2 separate regions of the Homo sapiens genome follow, and region 2 is linked to region 1. Evidence: fine-mapped expression QTL. Tissue or cell type: whole blood. Region 1 holds a variant in brackets; the other region holds the start of a gene. All regions are shown on one strand. Distances are from middle to middle. Region 1 has its middle 25 kb from the start of AOAH. Region 2 holds the start of AOAH (acyloxyacyl hydrolase).

Region 1 (8,413 bases):
TTTTCGAGATGGAGTTTCGCTCTTGTTGCCCAGGCTGGAGTGCAATGGCACAATCTTGGCTCACTGCAACCTCTGCCTCCTGGGTTCAAGCAATTCTCCTGCCTCAGCCTCCTGAGTAGCTGGGATTACACACGCGCGCCACCATGCCTGGCTAATTTTTGTATTTTCAACAGAGACGGGGTTTCATCATATTGGCCAGGCTGGTCTCTAACTCCTGACCTCAGGTGATCCACCTGCCTTGGTCTCCCAAAGTGCTGGGATTACAGACATGAGCCATGGCACCTGGCCGGTCCCTACTCTTAATTGTTCTGCAGCTTTCACGTTGATTGAAACTGGATTCAGCACATAATTCCTTCCATAGAGGCTTTGCCTTGGGCACCTAGGCCTGAAGATGCACTGGCCTAGGTAAGGGGAAGGGAATGACCTAAGAGGGTTTCAGGTCAAACAAAATGGGAGAGGGAAGCTTGTCCATTTAGAGGCAGCAAAGTGGGGGAAGAGAAGAGGATCAGAGACAGGTGAACACACAGTCAGAAATATATGACTCCACCTTTCAGCCCCAAACCAAAGCTCCCAGGTGTTAGAAGGATTGAGAGGGTAGCCAGGAGCAGAGGGATTTCCTGTTTGGGATCCTGAGAGTGGTGCCTGCAGCAGAGTGAAAAGTGTGGTGTTTGGGACCCAGGGTGGGGTGCCCTAGGTGACAGAGCGAGACTCCATCTCAAAAAAAAAAAAAAAACTGTGGAGTTTGGGACCCTGGGAGGGGTGTCTGCAGCAGAGTAGACAGTGTGGTACAGCAGATGTAGCAGGGAGCCTGGGTTAGCATTCCCAAGCCTTATACGCAGCCTGTAGAAGAAGCAGAAGTTATTGAGGATGTGGCTGATGAGGTCTGCTATTCCAGGGGCAAAGAGATCCCATACCTATGGGGGGAGGGCACAGTACCCTGGTCAGGGCTGCAGCAAGGACCTGGTTGGGGCCAAAACTTTGGGGAGGGTTACGGGGCTGAGATGGAGCCCAGAGATCAACTGCAAATGCGCCAGCTACAGATTTCAGCTCCAGAGGTCAGCATGGTATAGGGGCCATCCACATGTAGTCCTTTCCAGGACACCAAAGGACTACGGAATCAAATACGTAGAGTTAGAGTCCATTCCTCCTCACTTCCCTGGACTCCCCGATTTCCCCACACCCAGAGGTCATCTTGAAAAGGAAGGGGTAGGGAGATCTGGAAGATCAAGCATTGATGCACAAGCAGCCTGGCCACCCCCAAAAGCAGACTCCAACCCACAGAAACAGAGGTATTACTAACTGGTGAGTTTGAAGTGTAACTGCCCTGCACATCATGCACAGGAAGAACAGAAAATTCCTAATAAGGAAGCAACCTCTTATGAAACTGAGCAAGCAAGCTGGCAGCGTGTGCAGCCCAGTACACGTGGCAACAATGATAAGGATGGAGCGGTCCGGAGTGGGGGTGACCCAGCCCTTGCCTGCCAGTGGGATCTCTTAGTCAGGCTTGTGAGTGACCTCAGGCTGAAGGGCTAAGGGCCATGGCAGAAGCCTGACAGGAGAGGCAGGGAGCACAGAGCCAAGAGAGGCTAGTTTAGGGAGTAGGGACGGCTTCCCAAGGGGGTTGGTGCAGTTAGTGGGACCAGGGAACACGCTCACCTTTTATAGGGAGTGAGGCTCTCCTGGGTCATGAAACTGAGCTACAGAAGCCTGGCGCCTTTCTCAGGCTCTTCTGGTTGTAAGTTACAGAAAGCCATGGGAGCCAACTTGAGCAAATGCAATGGATGGGGCACTGCAGAGGCTCATGGAATCAGAGAACAGAGACTGCAGGACCTAGGGAAGGCACAGGACTGGACCGGGGGACACAGTAAAGAGCCCAGGAAGGGTGTCATTTCTACTTTCCTCTGAGCCTCTACTTCATCCTCCCTTTGGCTTTGGACTGTCTTGCCTCGTTTTTTGTTGGGAAGGCCAACAGCTCCTGAGCTTACGTGTTGCAGGGCCAAGTTTCTCTCTGTCTCAGTTGAAATTTGCCATGAAGGGACTGGTTTGCCTCCTGTACACCCATCAATTCCACCAGGAGCAAGGGAGGACAAGGGAACAAAACAGCTTTCAAAACAACATTGTGGATGGGAGAGAAGCGGGGAGGTACGAATAAGGGGTCTAGGCTTCACCCTAGGCTGCCAGGAAGGATCAGTCACTCTCCCCAGTAAATTAAGGAAAGTCCAGAAAGAAGAGAGAGTGATTTCGGGAAGCAGTAGGGGTGGACAGAAGAGGTACCCTCCTCCCCCTTGGACTTGGAAAAACAGAGCCAGCACTCTCCTGGCCATGAGTCAGAAAGTGGAGCTGTAGGGGGTGGCTGCAGAACCACAGGGTACATTTTTTCACTCTTTCATTATGTCACCTTAAAGAAATTAAGTAAAACTGCCAGTAAGGAAAAAAGAAAGCTAATAGTGGGGATATTGCTCAAAGGCAGAAAATTAGTTAAACATTACATTGGGGTTTCACAACAGGTTGGTGTACTGATTTTCTCACAGCTCCTTAATGAGTCTTGGAAAAAAAGATATAATTTTAATGTGGTCTTGATTGCTTTATTCTCAGGTCAGCCTGAGAATTTTCTCATGACGTTAATTATTCATTTTTGTAAGAAGCCTGCATAAATAAAAGTACAAGTACCGGGTGTCCAGTGTGGCATTTCAGGAGCTTGGAGAAAGAGGATAGAGAAGGTGAGAGCTGGGGGAAAATTGAGAGGTGGCCAGAAAGAGAGGCTTTGGTCATTTCCAGAGTCATGGAGTTGCAGAGAACTAGCTTTAGGCATTGCATGTAATTTAATGTTCTTCAATGTCCTGTAGCCTAAGACCACCTGGAACACACCTGTAGTCAACAAAGTTAGGCTGATTAACGCCACAGCAAGGGAAACTGCACGCTGTGGGGAAGCTTGAGGCATCTCAAAAGGGTGGATTAAGACAAGGGCACCCAATAAAGCTTTGGGGGCTGGAGTTAGTCACAGGATGGTGTTGGCAGGATTTCATCAGATTCTGTAAACTGGGGAGTTTCTGGAAAAGTAAGTGGTCTTATCTTTGGGATTCACAAGTCTGTGTGGAGTTACTGACAGGTCAATTTCTCTATGGTCTTATCTGGGAACAAATGGGCCTGAAAGAGCTGGTGTTTCAAGGTTTGAACTTAGATCGTCTGTGATGCCCACCACGGTGTGGTCGGGAGAAATTGGCCTGCTTCGAAACTGAGGCTTATGTTTTGAAAATTGTGGTTTCTGTTTTCATTCTCGGTCCCTGTCATCTCTCTGCCAACATGAACCCCAGTCTGCCAGTCTACCTTTTTCATTTACTCACTATTTTTCTATCCCATCGTTATGGTTATTCTACTGACATGCTACATGTAACATAAAGAGCCCTACAGCTGCATAACCTCCTGAGAGAGGGCTTCTTTAGTTTGCAATGGAGAACTGGAGATGGTGCTCATTCACAGATATCTAACACTCGGTAAGTCATCTTGTTTGACCACTCCCTCCTCA[C/G]AGGTCTGTGCCTTAACTGTGCATGTGAAATATTATATATCTTAGATTTAAGAAACAATTTGGCTCAACAAATGACAGTATCAGGGAGCTATTATGAGTTCTAAGAACTACTGTCCTCCTGCTATAGGTCCAGACAAGACTTTAGCATGGCAGGCTGCCTCCTAGGGCTGGGTAGTCAAGAAGGGCTGATAGTGGGTGAGCTAGTCAAGAAGCGCAGCAAAATGATGGTGAAATACCACTTCATACTTACTAGGATGGCTACTATTAAAAAAGAACACACACACAGAAAATAACAGATGTGGGCAAGCATGTGGAGAGATTGGAACCCTTGGACACTGTTGGTGGGAATGTAAAATGGTGCAGCTATAATGGAAAACAATACGGTGGAACTTCTAAAAAATAAAAATAGAATTACCATATGATCCAGTAATTCCACTCTGGGATATACCAGAATTGAAAGAATTGAAAGGAAGATCTTGAAGAGATATTTATATAACGATGTTCATTGCAGCATTATTTACCTTAGCCAAAAGGTACAAGCAAATCAAGTGTTCATTGATGCACGAATAAAAAAGCAAAATGTGGCATATCCATACAATGGAATATAATTCAGCTATAAGAAGGAATAAAATGCTGACATCTGTTATAACATGGCTGGACCTTGATGACATTATGCCAAGTGAAAGTAGCCAGACATAAAAGACTACATCGTGTATGATTCCACTAACATGAAGTACTTACAGCATTCAAATTCATAAGGACACAAAGTAGAATGGTGGTTTCCAGGGGCTTGGGGGCAAAGGGGAACAGAGAGTTATTGCTTAATGGTTATACAGAGTTTGGGGAAGATGAAAATGTTTTAGAGATATGTTGGTTATGGTTGCACAACAATGTGAGTGTACTTAATGCCACTAAACTCTACATTTAAAATGGCTGAAATGTTACATTTTCTGTTACATATATTTCATCATAATTGGAACAATGTTTTTAAAGCTAAAAAAAAAAAAAGTCTAGCAGGAGAAGAACCCACAGGTAGCACAAACCCAAGTCCTTGGAGGAGGCTAGACACTGTGACTAAGCAAATCACATTCATATACCAGATCAAGGGGCAGGGAATGGGGCCCAACACTGAGGTCAGGAGCTGGTTGGTGTTAGAACAGATGATTCAAGGGATTCGCTAAAGGATTCTCTTTGTTGCCTGACTTTAGTGCATTGCAGGGGTGAGTCAGACTCCAGGATGCAAAATCAGAGCAGATAAGGGTTTTCCTTCTTCTTTTTCTCCCTCTCTTCAAGAATATTCAGTGGAGATTTTAAACAGCCTAGAATTCTCTAGTAAAGTGGTTTGGGGAATAGAATTATAGACTTCATCCTCTAAGCCCATTGAATTCTTCCCCATCATAAGCAGAGCCAGATACAAGTGAGCACATAACTTCTCATGTTAGTGAGAAGCTATTGATTATGGCTGGGACATACGGCAAAACCAACATTTCTCTCTCTAATGCTAGTGTTGGGAGCTTTCAAATCTAGAAGGACCAGCTGTGGTATATAGACATCAGAAGAGGGGTGGTTAAGGTAGGGAGCCCCTAGAGCAAGTAAAAGTTATAAATCTAGGCAGGCAGTCAGAGTCAGGGGTGTTCCCAGGAGAGTTATTAGATCTCCAGCAAGGAAACACAGATCATGGGTCCAAGGAAGAGCCAGAGGGAGTGGAGTTTTAAAGAAGCCAGACTTTCGGTGCTGGTGTGTTTCATGCTCTGTATCTTTTCTCTCCTGTACCTCATCTTGGTTCTTTGAAGGCTTTCTGGGTTTAAGGGAATGTCTCCAGTTTGGGGAAATGCTGGGTCCACTTTCTGCACTCTTTCTTGGGAGAGAAGAAAGAAAAACAACCCAATAAAGAGAGAATGACCTAAGAGATATCTCAAAAGACCAGGGACCAAAAGCGGAGATTCCCAAAAAAACATTCTGAGAAAGCAGAAATAGTCAACGCTTTGCCCTTCCATGGGAAGTTCCACTCTCTGAACGTGTTGGTCACTGGTTTGCTTTCTTCTCAGGGGTGACACAAGGCATGCAGAAACCCTCGAGGTCCCCTGGAGGGCAGAGTAAACCATCAACAACAGGTAGTCAGAGCCCAGCCTTATGGTCTGGAATTAAGCATCTAGAAGGATAGGGATGACAGGGGGAGGGCAAGAACAGTTAGGACCTCGCTTCTGGAGTAGCTAGAAAAACATGGAGAGATGGAAACAAACCAAGGACTGGGACATGAGGGAAGACAAGCTAGAAGCCCACTTGCCGGGACCAATTTATCACATTAATATGGACTAGCCAAGAGGCTGACAATGCTGTGTCCTTTTGGAGCAATTAAAGAAATTCCTGACTGACTCTAACTCAGGAGCATCTGAAAATGACCTGGTAAGGACATTATTAACAACTGAAAAATATCTACTGTAGATTGAATGCCATTCATGAGTTAGGCAGTTTTCATTTACTCTCCCATTTACTCTGGATGGTAAGGAAGGTGTGACTAGTCCATCTTACAGATGAGGAGAGTGAGGCTCAGAGAAATAAAATTGCTCATTAGCAAACAGTGGAAGCAGAGTGTAAGGGAATTGCATCATGATTGTACATGCTTTCCCTTATGCTTGTGAATGTTTATGATCTGAACTTCATTGTCTCAAGTAAGGTTTCTTCTCTTCGTCAACACCAGCTATCCACGGGAAAAGTTAAAATCCTACATTGCACCTCTGCCTTGGGAGCCAAATAAATGGGTCCATGTTCTTATTGACAGCTGCCTTTCCCTCCTCTTCTCTGTGAGACTGTGGAGGTGTTTATGAATGATAGATCCCATGCTCTGCACTGTCAAGTTGACTCTGGATATCTTTTAATTCTCCTCTCTGGAAGAAAAAAAAGTTTTTTTCCTAATAGAGCAACCACTTAACACTTGGAGTCTTTGAGAAGCAAAATGGTGGTCTTCAGATGGATCCACAAATTCCATTCACCCCCAAAAGGACCTATAAACGTGGCCGTCCACAAGAGATTAGTCAAAAATGCATTTTTTTTTCCTGACAAAATGAGTGGCAACAGTCTTTTGTTAGAATGATATCATAAAAAATTGAGTTTAAAAGTCTGATTCTTGTGTCTTAATACTGGGTGTGAGAGGCATATACATTCCTAAATTTGTTGAGACAATATTTGACAAAGGTTTACAATAATATTCAAGGAGTGACCTCCATGGGCAGGGAAAGGGGCCTAGAAGTCCCCTCTCTGGAAACAGTCATGAGTGGGCTGGACAATCATTGGATGGAGACTGGGAGAGGTGGGCTGGACCTGGAGTCAACACCTACCTGCACACAACAATCACCTGTGGTAATTTACAAACTGAGACACTCAGAGTGAAGCTCAAGAACCTCTATTTTTTAACAAGCACCTCAAGTTATATTCATGTTGCTATGCAAGCTCCAGTTCTCTGAGAATCATTGCCCTAGATCACTGTACTCCAAACTTCCCTGAAAGTAAGAATCATCTGGCAGCACTTGTTAAATGTTCACTACACCAGGCCTCTCTCATGGACTTGGTGATGACTTGTGTAGAGTCCATGAATCAGTGGGGTTTGGGAATAACTGAACTAAAAGATTAACAGAATCCTTTATACCACTAAGATTTTGTAGCTTAGATGAAAGTTTCCATTTAATTTTAGTTCTGCTCACATACAGTGAGAGTAAAGACAGATAACTTTGAAACAACATGGGTGTCATAGTCTGTTTTCTGTTGCTATAGCAGAATACCTCAGACTGGGTAATGTATAAAGAAAAGAGATCTATTTGTCTCACTGTTCTGGAGGCTAGGAAGTCCAAAAGCACAGTGCTGGCAACCAGCGAGGATCTCTGTGTGTTATCCCATGGTGGAAGGGTGAAAGGGCAAGCAAGCACATGATACAGAGAAGAAAAAGGGGCCGAACTCCTGATAACTCACCCACTTCTACAATAATGACATTAGGCATTAATCCATTCACAAGGGAGGAGCCTCATGACCTAATCACCTCTTTTTTTTTTTTTTTTTTTTTTGAGACAGTCTTGTTCTGTCTCCCAGGCTGGAGTGCAGTGGCAAGATGACAGCTCACTGCAACCTCCGCCTCCCAGGTTCAAGCGATTCTCCTGCCTCAGCCTCCCGAGTAGCTGGGATTACACGCACACACCACCACACCTGGCTAATTTTTGTATTTTTAGTAGAGATGGGGTTTCATCATATTGGCCAGGCTGGTCTCTAACTCCTGACCTCAGGTGATCCGCCCGCCTCGGTCTCCCAAAGTGCTGGGATTACAGGCGTGAGCCACCACGCCCGGGCCCCTAATCACCTCTTAAAGGTCCCACCTCTTACTACTGTCACAATGGCAATTAAATTTCAACATGAGTTTTGGAGGGAACATTCAAACCATAACAATGAGGGATTCTATGAAGCAGGGTAATAATGCTATGCTTCTCCTTTGCATGTCCTCAACTCATTTATTTTTCTCTGTAGCACTTCACAAAATCAGAATTTCTACTTAGATTCTACCTTCTCAGCAGCTGCTTTCTTCTTTCTCTCTCATTATGTAGTCCCATGCCAGCACAACTTAGGGGCAGAAAATGCATTGAGAGACATTTGAACACAGAATGCCTGGCTCACCTTGATGTGTTTTTCTTTTTTACAGGATCTTCACTTTGTCTTTTGAAACTCCAGGCTCTTGGGGAAACTTAGCTTCCTTGGTATCTTGCTGATGCCTTCAAATGGTTGTACTTATTCTTGTTGTGTTTTTATACCCATCTTTTATAGTTATTTTCAGTGGAAGGTCTGTCTGAAACCAACGACTCCATCATGGTCAGAAGTGGAAGTCTGCCTGTTTTGGTTTTTAGT
Region 2 (8,217 bases), 24 kb before region 1:
CTGCTTCCTGAGATGCTTCCCACATACAACCCTTCCAGCAGGTACACCCCAGGATCCCGTATCAGGAGACACTCGCTCCCCAGCTTCTGGAGCCATTGGTCTGAAGGATTATGCCAGCATCAGAGTCCCTTGCCAGAACTGTCTCCACCAACGGGAGATGTCTCAAAATTACAGCCCTCCCCTGTGGTCAGGTCACATCGAGGGACTGTTTGATGTGGGAATTCCAAGACCTGCACCTACTTCAGGACAACTCTGAAGAGCTATTTTAGTCCCAGAGCTCTCAGTGGGACTTCTTTTATGGCTGCAGCACAGCCCGGCTTCTCTCTGCCAACCCCACTGCCTTCCTCTCTTGCTCGTCTTTTTGCCAAGAGCACTTCTCAATAAACTCCCCTGCACACACATTTCTAATCCTGTCTCCCCCAAAAGCCAACTTCAATCAGTGAAGCACCAAGTTGGACCACCTTCAGCCCCTGTCTCAGCACATAGGCAGTGCTCAGTAAGTGTTCATCACAAGACTGGACTCCTCTTGCACCCACCTTTCTTGCTATTATGACAACAGGTGAATAAGTCACCCAGGCAGAGTTAACCAGAAGAAGTTGGGAGTTGCTGGGAAAATGGATGCTAAATCATCCTCAAACCTAATCAGCAACAGAGTCTCCAAGCCCTTGGGGCCATGAGAATTTGTATGGGCAACCAAAGTGAACCTCTGTGAATGATAGAGATGACCACACATTTCTTGACCCTCTCCATCAAAATGAAGGGTCTCTGCCCCCTCCCTTTGAGTCTGGGTGGAGGAACTTGTGAATGCTTTGAGCAATGGAAGATGGCAAGTAATGCTGTGCCTGTTTCCAGACCCAAAACTTGAAAGATTGGCAGCTTCTAATTCCTGTCTTTTGGAATTCTCTCTGGGATTCCTAAGCTGCCAGGTAAGAAAGCCTACTACCCAAGATAGCCATGTGTGGGCACTCTGATGGCACTCCCAGATGAGCCAACCCTCTAGCCATTCCCTCACCCCTAAGGTGCCAAATATGTGAGTGAAGCTGTTTTTGTCAGTCCCAGATCCATCAATCCACCATCCGAATACCACCTCCTAACCTCGGTCACTCCTACATGGAGAAGAAGAATCACCAGCCAGTGTTCGAACAAATTTTTCACCCATAAAATCATAATACAACAAATGGTTATTATTGTAATTTTTGATGCAGCAATAATAGAAAAACCAGAGCAACCCCATCCTGAAATCTCCCCAACACCTCCTTCTTACCCTCTATGACCTCACTGGGAACAGGGCAGAGAAAGGAATGTGTACCTCCTGTCCATTTTACTGAAGTGAAGGTCCAAGGATCTCAGCCCTGACAACTTGCCCAAACTCAAACATTTAGTTTGCAATGAGCCCAGAAGTAAAACTGATTTCATCTGAGCTTTTCTCAAGTGTATTTCCATTTGATGGGCAGTAGGGTTTTGTTTTGAGAAAAATGAAAAGGTGGCAAATAGTTATTTAAGGAAACCAAATACTGGGGGAGGATGATCTCCCAGGCATGGTTCAAAGGACCACACACCTCTGCCTTCAGGTCTCTGGAAAATAGTCTTGGGGAATCTGGGTCTTAATTAAAACAAGACTTTGGAGGCTGGGCGCGGTGGCTCATGCCTGTAATCCCAGCACTTTGGGAGCCAAGGGGGGCGGATCACGAGGTCAGGAGTTCGAGACCAGTGTGGCCAACATAGGGAAACCCCATCTCTACTAAAAATACAAAAAATTAGCTGGGTGTGGTGGTGTGCATCTGTAATCCCAGCTACTCCGAAGGCTGAGGCAGGAGAATTGTGTGAACCAGGGAGGCAGAGGTTGCAGTGAGCTGAGACTGCACCATTGTACTCCAGCCCAGGTGACAGTGCGATAATCCATCTCAGAAAAAAAAAAAAAAAAAAAAAAAAAAGGACTTTGGAAGTAGAGATGCATCTCCTAACATGTACAATGACCTGAGGCCATGATTTTGAGGAAGTAGGACAAATTCAGATATATTTCCATATTGTCTCCAGAAACAATTCCTAAGTGTCAGAATCTGTGTCCAGATTTTCCATTTGCAGCATGTAGCCATCAGACTTATCCTAGAGTTATTTTCCTGGCTTCTCAAGCTAGGATTGTATTTTGAGGTCTGCTCATTGAACAATTACTTACTACTCAGAGTTCTGAGTCTATGTGGCTCCATGGACTGTACCATCTAAATGCCACCACTATTATGAGAATTCCCATGTTATGAGAGCTACAATGTGAATATCAAAGATCTTACCTTACTTCCTGCTCTCATCCAAAAAAAACAAACAAAAAAAACCTCTTGGAAATAAAACACTTCATTAACAGATGAGCCAAGAAGCCATATCAACGCTCAGCGTCTCCAGGTGATCGCCAAATCTGGATTCTCTGAGAGACGGAAGGAAGCTAAGATGGTTGAGTCCTTACTGTGTGCACATGCCACAGATTTACATGCATGGTCACAATTTCCATGGTATCCCTATGAGATGGGTCTCACTCACTTCAGTTCACCAATAAGGACACAGAAGCATGGAGAGGGTTAAGTACATTGCTCCAGGTTTCCACAGCCAGTAGGAAATGGGAGAGAAGGGTAGGAGGAGGGCAGTGATTCAAACTCAGATGTGTTTATATGAGGTCAAAGCCCATGAAAAGCAGTAAAAATTTCAGACTAAAATAGCCTGAAATAATAGTTACCTATACAAGAAGAAAAAATTCCAATCGCCAATGAGGTGGAAGAGTTTTATGCCCAATTTAAACTAGTATGCTTTTTATTCACATAGATGTATGTAGTGTCAATGTCTACTCTTAGACTCCACATTTCTCTGTGTCAGTGAGGTTACTGGTGCCTTACCTGGAATCTTACAATTCTTGATTTAATAAAATATGTGATTTATTACGCAAGCAAAGTACTGGATCCCATTGTTATGTCTACATAGAAAATACAAAAATATTTATTTGCATACCTACACAGGTGTGCCCATTCGAGAGGCTGGGCCTGGACTGGTCATCGTTGGCTGGAGAGGCCGAGGACTGAAGAGACAGGAGCAAGAATAGAGGCGCCACCGTAAGGATTTTCCAGGGGGACTGCATCTCCGAGCTATGCACCCCAAGTGATCACCCGGCTTTGGAAGCTCCCAACTGAGGGATGCTGGAGCTGAGGCTGCAGAATCAATTGATCTCTCTCTCCTTCTCTTCCTCACTCTCTTTGACACACACACCCCACCCTCTCACATACACACTTTTCAATAAGTGTGAAGTGAATAAAAGCACACATAAACACTCACAGACCCACAGCTTGCTCTTGTTGGACCCTGAGAGAGCCACACACAAAGAGCTGGAGGGAGTCTGTGGTGTGCGGTTCTGCTGAGGTAAAGACTGCAGGATAAAGAAAACCCAAGTTGCACAGTGGCACAACTTCCGTGCTCCCTGGCTCAGTGAAGTTAGTGTGCATAAACCCCGTGAGCCTCGAGGCTTGCCGGAACTGATCTGTTGGGTTGGTTAGGAGGCCCTTCCCCTTTCATTCTTGCAAAACAAAACAAAACGATACTAAAGCCAAAACTGAGAAGAAAAAAGAAAAAAAAAACTAATCCACAAGCACACAACCCTTTAACAATTTGATCAGCAGCACCCACATATTGTAGAAATTCTAATTGGTTACATTCAGAACTTACTTAGTCTTGTTTTCAACAGCTTTATATGGTAAGGTTGTGATCCTTATTTTGTTGTAAAAGGATATTCTGGTCAAATAATATCTTTCCTCTGGAGAAATTGGGTTATTCCTTGAAGGGTCAAGGCCTTTTATTTGGTGTGCAGAAAATAAACAGTACAGAAAATAATGGGCAGTTAGCATGGTGGGATTTTAGACCTAATGAGAAAAAACATGGGTTAGAATTAATCAATTCACAGTTGCTAGGCTGTGCACAATGCATCTTTTTTTTCTCCAGAATTTCGAAGTGCATTTTGTGGATGATTTGTTAAGAGACTGATTTTCTGCTCTGAAGAATAGAACTGAACACTGTCTTTCTGAGGGAAAAAAAAAATCGGAACCAGATCATAGATAAAAGACATATAATCTAAATGTTTCTCTCTAAAATAAGATAAAACAAAATCATATGCCATTCTCAGTCAAGATAAGAGGACAGGGCCAAAGTACCACAGTCTAGGTAAGTGTAGGAGGTCATGAGATTCTGTTTCTCTCTGCTTAGGCTCTGAGGGAGCTTATTACAAATTTTGAAATATTATAGAAGCTATCTAAATTGTTAGCAATTAAAAAAAATAGCATTTGGAGTAGCAGGCAAAGTTTTAGAGTAGCATCCTTTCCAGGATGTAGGAAATACCAGTTTTTATGGTTGGAAGATTTCTTGTGCAGTCATTAGTCTTACAAGCACCGATGGGGCTACAATTCCCAAACCTGCTGCAGAGATAGCACAAGTCAGAGTGTTTCCCTAATTACACTTCCAGCCCAATACTGAGGATATCGTTAGGCGTCCATGGGCCTGTGACTTCCTCTGACTCTAAGGTGCTGCTGCTTCAGTTCTTCACTCTGTGACTAAGGGGAGCTCTGGGGTCACTAGGACCACCACAGGGGTGAGGCCTAGAGAAGTTCCAGAGACTTCCAAGGGAGGCTAAATAAAGGACTGATTGATTAGGAACTCAGATTGTGAAGACAGAAAGGCTCATGCTTACGTCTCATGTCTACTGTTTATTCTGAGTAATATATTAGACCAGTGATGTAACTTTCCCCCCTTCAGTGTCTTGTTTTTGTTGTTGTTGTTGTTGTTTGTTTGTTTTTTGAGACAGGGCCTTGCTTTTTCATCCAGGCTGGAGTGCAGTGGTGTGATCACAGCTCACTGCAGTGTTGACCTCCTGGGTTCAAGTGATCTTCCCACCTCAGCCTCCCAAGTAGCTCATTTCTATTGGGATAATGGTAATATCCGCTCCAATGCGCTGCTGGAAGCACTCGAATACATGATGTATCCAAACAACAAAGCAGCATGGCTGGCAAGAAGTAAGTGCTTAGTGCATCTGTCTATGACTCTAGCAGGAGTGTGATGAAACCTGCACCCCAGACCAGCTTCAAGAGAATTCCAAGACGCCCATGGTAGTTGTAGGCCATCATGTCATACATGGGAAATGGTGAGGACAGGAAAAGGGAGGATTTATTGAATACCTTCCAGCTGTGCTACAGCACTCCAGGAGTGTGTGGTCTAGTTTGTCTAATCCATAAATGGGTGAGGACTCTCCTGAGGGCTTCTGGAAGAGCATTTGACACAGGCTTTGGGCCTCTTGAGGCTCTCCTGGTCTCAATGTATAGCTGCGAGCAGGTCTGGAAACTCTTAGAGTGAGAGGGATTTCTTGGTATGCCGGAAATGCAAGTTTTGTGCCCTTCATCGCATGTATGTGGGCCAGGCAGTGCCATTCACAACCATCCCAGGGATGGTCGGCTCTGAAACTCTCTAGTGTGCTCAGGCTTCGGGGCTGGTCACAGTGGGAGTCGCTGACTTAGCTGTGCAGTATTGAGCAAGCCCCTTCCTGTTTCCAGAGGTGACAGTCCTCAGCTAGAAAAGGGAGGTGAGACTATCTACTTCGTAGGAATATATCATGGTAAAACCTGACACATAGGTTTTCAGTAATGGAAGGATTTTTCATGCTTGGAGGGTGAGTTCTTACTGGGCATGATCAAAGGAAGAATGCAGAAATCAGAAAGTGATTTCGCCAGCAGAAGCTGGAACAAAGTGCACGTGTGCACAGACCACTGAACAAAACATCCCTCTCCGTCACCAGGATGGAGTGGACCCTCCCATTTGCACAGTTGTCCTTCACACTGGCTGGTATCATTGCCCCTGACAGGGCTGCCTTTGCTCATCAAGTACTGAGTGCAAATGACTTGGGATCTTTGCACAGCTTGCCAAAAGGCCCTGGACCTACCTGTGGTTTAGAACAACTAGTCAGGCCCTGGAGAATGTTCCTGCAGGACCCCACTGTCAGATGTTCCAATTTTGAATCATCTCGAAATCTGCTCTTGAAAATGAGATTTCTTCCCTGAAGCACTTTGTTACTGATTTCACTCAAACAGCTCTGATTCAAACCACTGCTTTCCCCTGTGCCATGGAAGGCTAAGGCTTTGTGATCCCCAAGTGTTGCACCTGTGGTCTGCTTGTTCAGTATGAATATGCTTCCTGAATATTTTTTGACCACATTGGCCTCAACCACCTCATCCACAGCAAGTTCCTTAATCAGAAAAAAAAAAAAAAAAAAAAGAGGTGGGTGATGGGAGATCCTGTAAAAGCTGGCACTGTCACCAACACGTGTCTCGTCTTAGACTTTCTCCTCTCTCTAAGGCCCAGGTCCATGCTGCCCTGTTACTCCTGGCTGCCCAGGACTGTGTACAGCAGTCCTCAGTTCCCATCTACCAAAACCAGGCCCTCTGCTGCTCCCCTCCTCCTCAGTCAGAGCTTATTAACGCTAGCCTCATTCTATTCTGTTCTGCTGTCTGCTAAGGACAGGGTAAATTAACCCATGCTGAGGATGCATGGGGGCTCATTAAAAGAGCTCTGGGCTAGGATGGGGGGCCTGTGTCATGGGCTCCCCTCCTAGTAGCTGTGTGCCCTGGGTAAGCTGCTCCACCTTTCAGAATACCAGTTTATTTTACTATAGAATAGGGCATATAATGTCAATATTTAAGAAAATTGTGAGAATTAGAGAGACAACATGAATTTAAAAACATAATATTAACTGTTAGATGAATGTGAAGCTGACAATGAATTCACATTATTCTTCTCAAGTAGCATTGAAATTTTGGGGGAAGTTTTTTAAATCAAGATTTTAAAAATTGCTACATAATAACTGTACATATTTCTGGTGTACATGTGACATTTCAATACGTGCATGCAATGTGTAATGATCAAATTAGGGTAATTAGGATATCCGTCATCTCAAATATGTATCATTTCTTTGTCTTGGAAACATTTAAAATTCTCTTTTCCAGCTATTTTGAAATATACAATGAATTGTTGTTAACCAAAGTCACCCTACTGTGCTATTCAACACCAGGACTTATTCCATCTAACTGTATTTCTGTAGCCATTAATCAATCTCTCTTTATTCACCCTTTCCCACCCTTCCAAGTCTCTGGTATCTATCGTTCTATTCTCTACCTCCTTGAGATCACCTTCTTTAGTTTCCACAAGTGAGTGAGAACATGCAGTATTTGTCTTGCTGTGCCTGGCTTATTTCACTTAACATAATAACCTCCAGTTTCATCCATGTCGATGCAAATGACAGGATTTCATTCTTCTTAATGGCCAGATGGTATTCCATTGTGTACATGTACCACATTTTCTTTATCCATTTATCTGTTGATGGACACTTAAGTTGATTTCATACCTTGACTGCTGTGGCTAGTGCTGCAATAAACATGGGTTTATACTACAAAGTATGTCAGTATACCTTTCCAACATACTGATTTTCTTTTGAATACATAACCAGCAGTGGGATTGATAGATTATATATTAGATCTATTTTTAGTTGTTTGAGGAAGCTCCATACTGTTTTCTATAGTGGGCTGTACCATTTATAATCCCACCAACAGTGTGCTAGTAGTGCCCTTTCAAAGCATCCTTACCAGCATCAGTTATTTTTGTCTTTTTGATGATAGCCATTTTAATTGGGGTGAGATGATATTTCAGGGTGACTTTGATTTGCATTTCCCTCATGATTCATGATGCTGAGCATTTTTAAATATACCTGTTGGCCATTTGAATGTCTTCTTTTGAGAAATATCTATTCAGATCCTTTGCCCATTTTCTAATCAGGTTTTTTGCTGTTGTTTGAGCTCCTTGTATATTCTGGCTATTAATTCCTTGTCAGGTAGGTAGTTTACAAATATTTTCTCCCATTCTGCAGATTGTCTCTTCACTCTGTTGATTGTTTCCTTTGCTATGCAAAAAGTTTTTAGCTTGATGTAGTCTCATTTGTCTATTTTTGCTTTTATTGCCTATGCTTTTGAGTTCTTACCCAAAGAGTCTTTGCCCAAACCAATGTCCTGAAGCATTTTCCCACCTTTTCCTTCTACTAGTTTTATAGTTTTTCAGGTCTTGCACTTAAGTCTTTCATCTGTTTTGAGTTGATTTTTGTATATGGTGAGACATTGGGGTCTAGTTCTACTTTTGAGCATATGGATATCC

The links.
Region 2: it holds the start of AOAH, and the variant in region 1 is fine-mapped to the expression of AOAH in whole blood (INTERVAL, PIP above 0.99).

What each region holds. Positions count from the first base shown.
Region 1 is chr7:36,745,115-36,753,527 of GRCh38, forward strand. No RefSeq gene overlaps it. Among named protein-coding and RNA genes, the nearest start is that of AOAH, 25 kb to the left of the region's middle. The variant C/G (reference allele first, on the strand shown) is at 3,527.
Region 2 is chr7:36,721,028-36,729,244 of GRCh38, forward strand. AOAH (acyloxyacyl hydrolase) reads right to left here and starts at 3,467. Exons shown (of 21, transcript NM_001637.4): 1 at 2,995-3,467. The coding sequence starts at 3,121.